Homo sapiens: one gene and its partner. The protein of the gene in region 1 purifies or fractionates together with the protein of each later gene. This does not show direct contact. Each region holds a gene or a part of one and is shown on either strand. Other genes may lie near its edges. The genes, in order: SOX13 and MGME1.

Region 1 (3,819 bases):
ATTTTGCGGTTAGACTCGGGAAGTGGCAATGACATGCCTGAAGTCACAAGGGTGCCTGGTGAGAGCCCAGATTCAGAGTCATGGGATTTGATTCCTACCAGGCCTCTCCTGCATGGGATGAGTGAGACCTAATGCTTGGGGCCTCCAGGCGAGGGATGGTGATGACCCCTAAGGCCAGGCAGGAGCCAGATGGCACAGGATAGGTATGTACCAAGAACTGCCCTACAGAGCCAGGCTGCGTGGCCAGACCAGGAGAAGAGAGATGGGGTTCAAACATCTCCCCCACCCCCAACAGGCCTTCACCTTTGACATCTTTGGCTTCCATAGAGTTCCTTCCTAGAAACCTCTCCTTCCAGTCACTGGACAACAGCTTCTCTATGGCTGGCACCACTGGAAGACAGCAAAGGGGTGAGGAATAACCGTCTTAACACCTCCCTGCCTCAGGCCTCTGCTTCTAACTAGGGCAGACATCCTACCTTCTTTCAAATTTCGGTTGAAGTCCAGCTTCTCCTGGCTTCCAGAGGCAGCCTCCGACACTCCTGGTCTCTTGGGTTCTGGGGACCCATTACCCTCTGGAGAGCTACAGTCCTGCAAGACATACTGAATTGTCACCATAACCCCCAAGAGAAGGGGACAGGCTGCAGGGAGGGCTGGGCACCCCAAAGATGTGTACCCTGAGGGATCCCAGCCCTATCCAAGTCCTACTTCTCCACTCACTAGGTCCCTTTGGCCTCCACCTGCCCAAGCTTTGTTTAGGAAAAGAACAGAAGATTTCAAAACAAAAGACCTGGGTTTCAGTCCAGGCTCAGTGACTCACACGATGCTTGATCCCACACAAGTCCCTGAAATGCTCTGAACCTGACTTCCCTCTTTTGAAAATGGAAATATTAATACCTCCTCTGTCACAGGATTGTTGCTGGGATCAAGGGAGTTAATGCATGTGAATGAGATTTGCCATTACAATCAGGGGCCAAAAGTCAGCTATTAGTTATCACTCCCTTGAACATACCCACTACACCAGCTGGGCTGCATAGGGGAGCAGGTAGGGGCTGGCAAAAGTTACTCACACTCCCCACTGCCTGCCTCACTCCTCTTCTCGTCAAAGTCCTCCCCATCCTTTAAGGCCTAGCTTGAGGCTCTACTTCTCCAGGAAGCCTTCCTTGATCACCAGTGCCCCCACCCCCCACCTCCTTCCTCCAGGCTGGATTCTTTCTTAGAGCCCATAACTCTCCTCATTTTCACTTATTTGGATTTTAATTATATATCACCTTTTTACATCTCATATGTGAAATCAGAATTTTTAGGAGCTGCAAGAATCCTTATGAATCATGCAGCTCAATTCTCTTGTTTTTTTAAGGGTCAAGAACCGTATCATCTTTAACAGTGACCTAATTCTTGCTTGTGTAATCAGGTTGATTTTCCCAAATCATCTGAAAAATCTGGTAGATTACTTTAAAGCCAAACTTTAGCATGTGTGTCCCATCTCCCCATCTAGTCCTCAGAAGCAAGGACTGGGTCACACATAGGTGAACTGTCACTATCAAGCGAGTAAGTACAGGCATGAGTCTAGGTCCTGCTCTGATAGGTGACCCCGCTTCCAGCCTCAGACTGAACTTGGCAGTGCCTCCCTGCTTCCCTACATGGCGTCTTACCCCTAGGATCACCACTTCTGCCTGTATCTGCTGCCATCTAGGGGAGTGGGCCTGCCCAGCCGAGCAGAGAGCCCAGGTACAGCGCATGGGTGTGAGGATGGAGGCAGGGCGGGGACACTGACCCAGGAGCCCCTGAAATTCCCCTGGGCTGGAGCTTGGGGGTCAGCACTATCCTGGGAGGCCCGGGCTGGGTCTCCAGGCTGAGGTTCAGCGGCAGTGGCTGAGCCCTGGGGGGCCTCGTGGCAAGGCTCTTTCTTCTCCTCTGACTTGATGGTGCAGTTCACCATGGTGCCAACGCCATCCAGGGCCAGCTGGGCAGAGATGGGGCTCCTCATGGACATCCTGGGGGAGGGACAGAGTGAGCTGAGGTGAGTCCCCAGTCGTAAACTTCTGCCCAGAGGCAGTGACCCTACTGTTTGCTCCCCTGACCCCACCCAAGTGCCTCCTGGTGCCTGTCACATGGGCACACTCACAGAAAGGGCAAGCTTACTTGTGAACCCACAGAAAAATCAGCAAAGCCTCTTGTATCCCTCATGCTTTTTTGTTTTGTTTTTTGCTTTTTAAACAAAAAGTTCTAGAGAAGAGTGGGCCTACCCTTGCGCAGCAGCTGCCTGTGTAATGCTTGGGACTACGGGACTAGTGGACTGACGGCCCAACTAACGAGGCCAGATACTGACTGGCTGTTTCTGAGCCCAACAGAGTTGGAGAGCGACAGCGAGAGAGAGAAAGTGTGTGTGTGTGTGTGTGTGTGTGTGCACGCATGTGTGCATGTGTCTGTGCATGTTTGTATGTATACAAATGCATTTTTTTTTTTTTGAGACAGAGTCTCACTCTGTCACCTAGGCTGGAGTGCAAGGGCACGATCTCGGCTCACTGCAACCTCCGCCTCCCAGGTTCAAGTGATTCTCCTGCCTCAGCCTCCCGAGTAGCTGGAATTACAGGCACACGCCACCACCCCCAACTAATATTTGTATTTTTAGTAGATATGGGGTTTTGCCATGTTGGCCAAGCTGGTCTCCAACTTCTGACCTCAGGTGATCTGCCCGCCTCAGCCTCCCAAAGTGCTGGAATTACAGGCGTAAGCCACCACGCCCAGCCTACAAATGCATTTTTATAATTAGTTACCAATACTTAAAAATCAAGAGATAACACATAAAAATCTAGATTTGAACTTCTAGCTCAATTGTTTTTGTGGTAAAAATTGGCTGGAATTGAGTAATGGGTATTTCTTATGGACAGGCCAGTCTACTTTAGCCTCTACACTCCTACTACTCCTCAAAAAGGAAACCAAGTATTAACTATATAAGACATATATTCTTCTATATATAAGACATATAGTCTTCTTCTTACAGTGGAGATAAGGTAAAAGTAAATGATTTCTTGCTTCATGCATCTATCACACGGGGGGAAATAGCCGGGTATGGTGGTTCATGCCTGTAATCCCAGTTACTCAAGAGGCTGAGGAAGGCACATCACTTGAGGTCAGGTGTTTGAGGCCAGTCTGGACAACCTAATGAGACTCCCATCTCTTTAAAAAAATAAAGGGCGGGGGTGGGGGGAATAACAGACTGAGATGATTGGCTTTACGAAAAATATTTTCCGGTATCTAGCTAGAATCTCTCAGAGTCTGGCCACCATAGGCATCTGAGTTTGCAGTTCCTAGTTTAAGCAGCTGGTATACCTGGCAGACCCTCTTGAGACTCTGCACCTGCTGTTCCTTTCCTGTCACATCACTGCCTGGGACATCTGAGGAGCTGAGCAATCGCAGCATCTCAGGGAGTGGTTTCCAGGGGTCATGCCAGGCTTGGGCGGAGCAGCAGATGCCTATCCTCCAAAGTCACAGAGATGCGCTCTGGGTTCTAGTGGGAACACAGCAGGTTCCAGCTATGCATGGGTCCTGCCTCAGCTACTGACTAGCCAAGTGACCTAGGGCAAGTTGCTTAGCTGCTCTGTACTTCAAGTTTCCTCATCTGTAAAATGAGCATGGTAAGAGTCTCTACACTATAGGATGGCCGTGAGGACTAGGAGTTGATATTTATATGGTACTTAGAATAGTTTGTGGCACCAGTAAGCACCGATCTGGTGTTTTGTTGTTTCCTTGTTTATCACATTTCCAAATAACATCACATGATCTGGTGTTTGTTAAACCACTACTAGTTGGAATGCA
Region 2 (3,122 bases), on another chromosome or scaffold:
GTGGGGGGGTAGGAGGAGAAAAATTGTAAAAAAAAAAAAAGTTAAAAAATAGAACTCCTTGAGGTTTTTCCTTTTTTAATCTCTATTTTTATCCCATTGCTTAACGTCTTCCTTGTTCCTTTCCCACTTAAAAAAGCACTTTTTGGCTGGGCACAGTGGCTCACGCACTTTGGGAGGCCGAGGCAGGCAGATTGCTTGTGCTCAGGAGTTTGAGTCCAGCCTGGGCAACATAGTGAAACCCCGTATCTACAAAAAAAATACAAAAATTAGCTGGACATGGTGGCGCACACTTGTGCCAGCTACTTGGGAGGCTGAGGTGGGAGGATTGCTTGAGCCCAGGAAGTGGAGGTTCCAGTGAGCCGAGATTGTACCACTGCACTCTAGCCTGGCCGACAGAGCAAAACCCTGTCTCAAAAATAAATAAATAGGCCAGGTGTGGTGGCCCAAGCCTATAATTCCAGCACTTTGGGAGGCCGAGTTGGGCAGATCACCTGATGTCAGGAGTTCAAGACCAGCTTGGCTGACATGGCGAAACCCTGTCTCTACTAAAAATACAAAAATTAGCTGGGCGTGGTGGTGTGTGCCTCTAGTCCCACCTACTTGGGAGGCTGAGGCAGGAGAATCGCTTGAACCCAGGAGGCGGAGGTTGCGGTGAGCCAAGGTTGTTCCACTGCACTCCAGCCTGGGCAACAGAGCAAGACTGTCTCTCTCCAAATAAATAAATAAATAAATAAATAAATAAATAGCACTTTTTGGCCAGGGGTGGTGGCTCATGCCTGTAATCCCAGCACTTTGAAGGAGGCCGAGGTGGGCAGATTGCTTGAGCCCAGGAGTTCAAGACCAGCCTGGGCAACGTGACAAAACTCCATCATTACTAAAAATAGAAAAATCAGCCGGAAGTGGTGCCCGCCTCAGCTTCGAGGGTGCAACGAGCCGAGATTGTGCCACTGCACTCCAGCCTGGACGATGGGAGTGGGATCCTGTCTCAAAAAAGAAAAAAAAAGCACTTTTCCACCCTCTTCTTGGGCCTTTTTTTTTTTTCAATGGCTCTGTAAGGATCACAGCCCAGTCTTCAATGTTTTATCTGTCATCTTTGTGTTCTTGTGTCCTGGTGCAGTCTTTGATCAACCTACCTTAGAAACTGAGTTAGGAGATATCCTGTAGATTATTTTATACTGAGTTTGCCCTGGAGTAAGAAGGAAACGAACCTAAACTCTGGACCTACTGTAGTGAAACGAGAATTGCCCTGTGTTTCTTCCTAGGTTCAATGTGGCTTAATTGTGGTGGCCTACAAAGATGGATCACCTGCCCACCCACATTTCATGGATGCAGAGCTCTGTTCCCAGTACTGGACCAAGTGGCTTCTTCGACTAGAAGAATATACGGAAAAGAAAAAGAACCAGAATATTCAGAAACCAGAATATTCAGAATAGGGAGCAAGTTGCTATTTGGGAACATTCAGCACCTTCTCACAGTTTGGGAACATATATTGCTGTTTACTCCAGTGTAAAAATGAGGTGCCACTGGATCTGAGTGCTACACGAACACAAGTAGAAGTATTAATTTGTTGAAATGTGTTGTTACCAAAAAGACTGAAAAGCCCCAAAGTCTAGATATAAAGACCTAGACTTCGGCACGCGAAATCCCAGCTATGCTACCTCTTATTTACCTGAAAGGAGGACACGCAGGATGGGCAGTCATGCTGGTGACTCTTGTACTCCCTTGAGGGACATTGGGGGGGGGGGGGCGTGGTCCCAGGCAGGATGCCCAGTCTTTGAGCTGAGATTGGAAGGCAGTGAGGCTGAGGGTGCCAAGATTTCCCCAGGGTTCACCCAGAGGGGAAGGGGCTACATGCCCCCAGCTGTGTGCAGGGAGGACACATCAGCCCACTACCGCTGCCAACACCAATGCCTAAAACTTGTTTCATACATTGGGGTTTTCTATATATTTCAGCTGGGAAAAGCTTACATTTAACCTTTTGAAAAAATAAATACGTGATTAGCCTCAACTAAACATTGCTGACTATAAAGACAGTATATTCACCATGTCGCTGGCAATATGTCATTGCGTAACACCAAATAACCCCCCAGAAGTAGCCAGAGGCCAGTTTGAACATCACAATTCTAAGTGTTTTAGTAACTATTTCTGGCGTGAGTCAACAGATCATGTAGATAGAGTCAATTATTGTTTGTGGAGTTTTTCAGCTATAGGGGAGGGGAACTATTAAAATCCATTTGTTTCTATTCAATAGGTAATAAAAATTAGTTGTCCCTGGGTTTGGGAAACTTAAATGCCCATTACAGCCCTGGGGAAGGGTTTTCTGTCTTATGGAGTGAGTCTTAGCATTTAAGTTATACAGTTGCTGCCTTAAAATAGTAGCCTGCTACAATGACTTCTTTGGGTAGCCATTTTCATAAGAAATAAAATACAAGATATGAGTAATGAAGCTTTGGTTTTGTTTACTTTGTGTGTTTATAGGATAATTTTATAAACCTGGAAATTGTTTGCACTTTTTTTATAATTCAGAATTTTACAAGCCCAATAGCTTTGGTGAGAGTTCTGTGTAAGTGCATAAAAGAAAGCGTCCTCGGCTGGGCGCAGTGGCTCACGCCTGAAATCCCAGCACTTTGGGAGGCCGAGGCGGGCGGATCACAAGGTCAGGAGATCGAGACCATCCTGGGTAACACGGTGAAACCCCGTCTCTACTAAAAATACAAAAAATTAGCTGGGCGTCGTGGCGGGCGCCTGTAGTCCCAGGTGCTCCGGAGGCTGAGGCAGGAGAATGGCGTATACCCGGAAGGCGGAGCTTGCAGTGAGCCGAGATCACGCCACTGCACTCCAGCCTGGGCGACAGAGCGAGACTCCGTTTAAAAAAAAAAAAAAAAAAAAGCCTCCTCACTAAGCCCTCAGCCACGGTCACCTAGCAAGGAAAGCAATATTCAGGTAGGAGATGGGAGGATCAAGGGGGACCTTTGTATTATCTCTATACACTTCTGCATTCATGTGGGTTTTTCTCAAGCTGCAGATACATATTTCTGTAGCCTGTAAATTCCAGTCAAAAATGAAGTGAGGCAATTAAAAGTTGTGCTAGCAGAGTTTGCCACTCTGCTCTAATAAGCCTC

Evidence for each region.
Region 2: the proteins of SOX13 (region 1) and MGME1 purify together in Homo sapiens (affinity purification with mass spectrometry; one large-scale study listed by BioGRID and IntAct). This does not show direct contact.

Annotation. Positions count from the first base shown.
Region 1 is NC_000001.11:204,111,090-204,114,908, reverse strand, and holds part of SOX13 (transcription factor SOX-13), read right to left. Parts: intron 1,995-3,819; 5' UTR 1,994-1,994; coding exon 1,775-1,993; intron 589-1,774; coding exon 477-588; intron 391-476; coding exon 304-390; intron 1-303. UniProt on the Homo sapiens protein: Transcription factor that binds to DNA at the consensus sequence 5'-AACAAT-3'. Binds to the proximal promoter region of the myelin protein MPZ gene, and may thereby be involved in the differentiation of oligodendroglia in the developing spinal tube.
Region 2 is NC_000020.11:17,988,677-17,991,798, forward strand, and holds the end of MGME1 (mitochondrial genome maintenance exonuclease 1 isoform 2 precursor), read left to right. Parts: intron 1-1,262; coding exon 1,263-1,433; coding exon of another isoform or gene 1,434-1,510; 3' UTR 1,511-2,446; downstream 2,447-3,122. UniProt on the Homo sapiens protein: Metal-dependent single-stranded DNA (ssDNA) exonuclease involved in mitochondrial genome maintenance. Has preference for 5'-3' exonuclease activity but is also capable of endonuclease activity on linear substrates.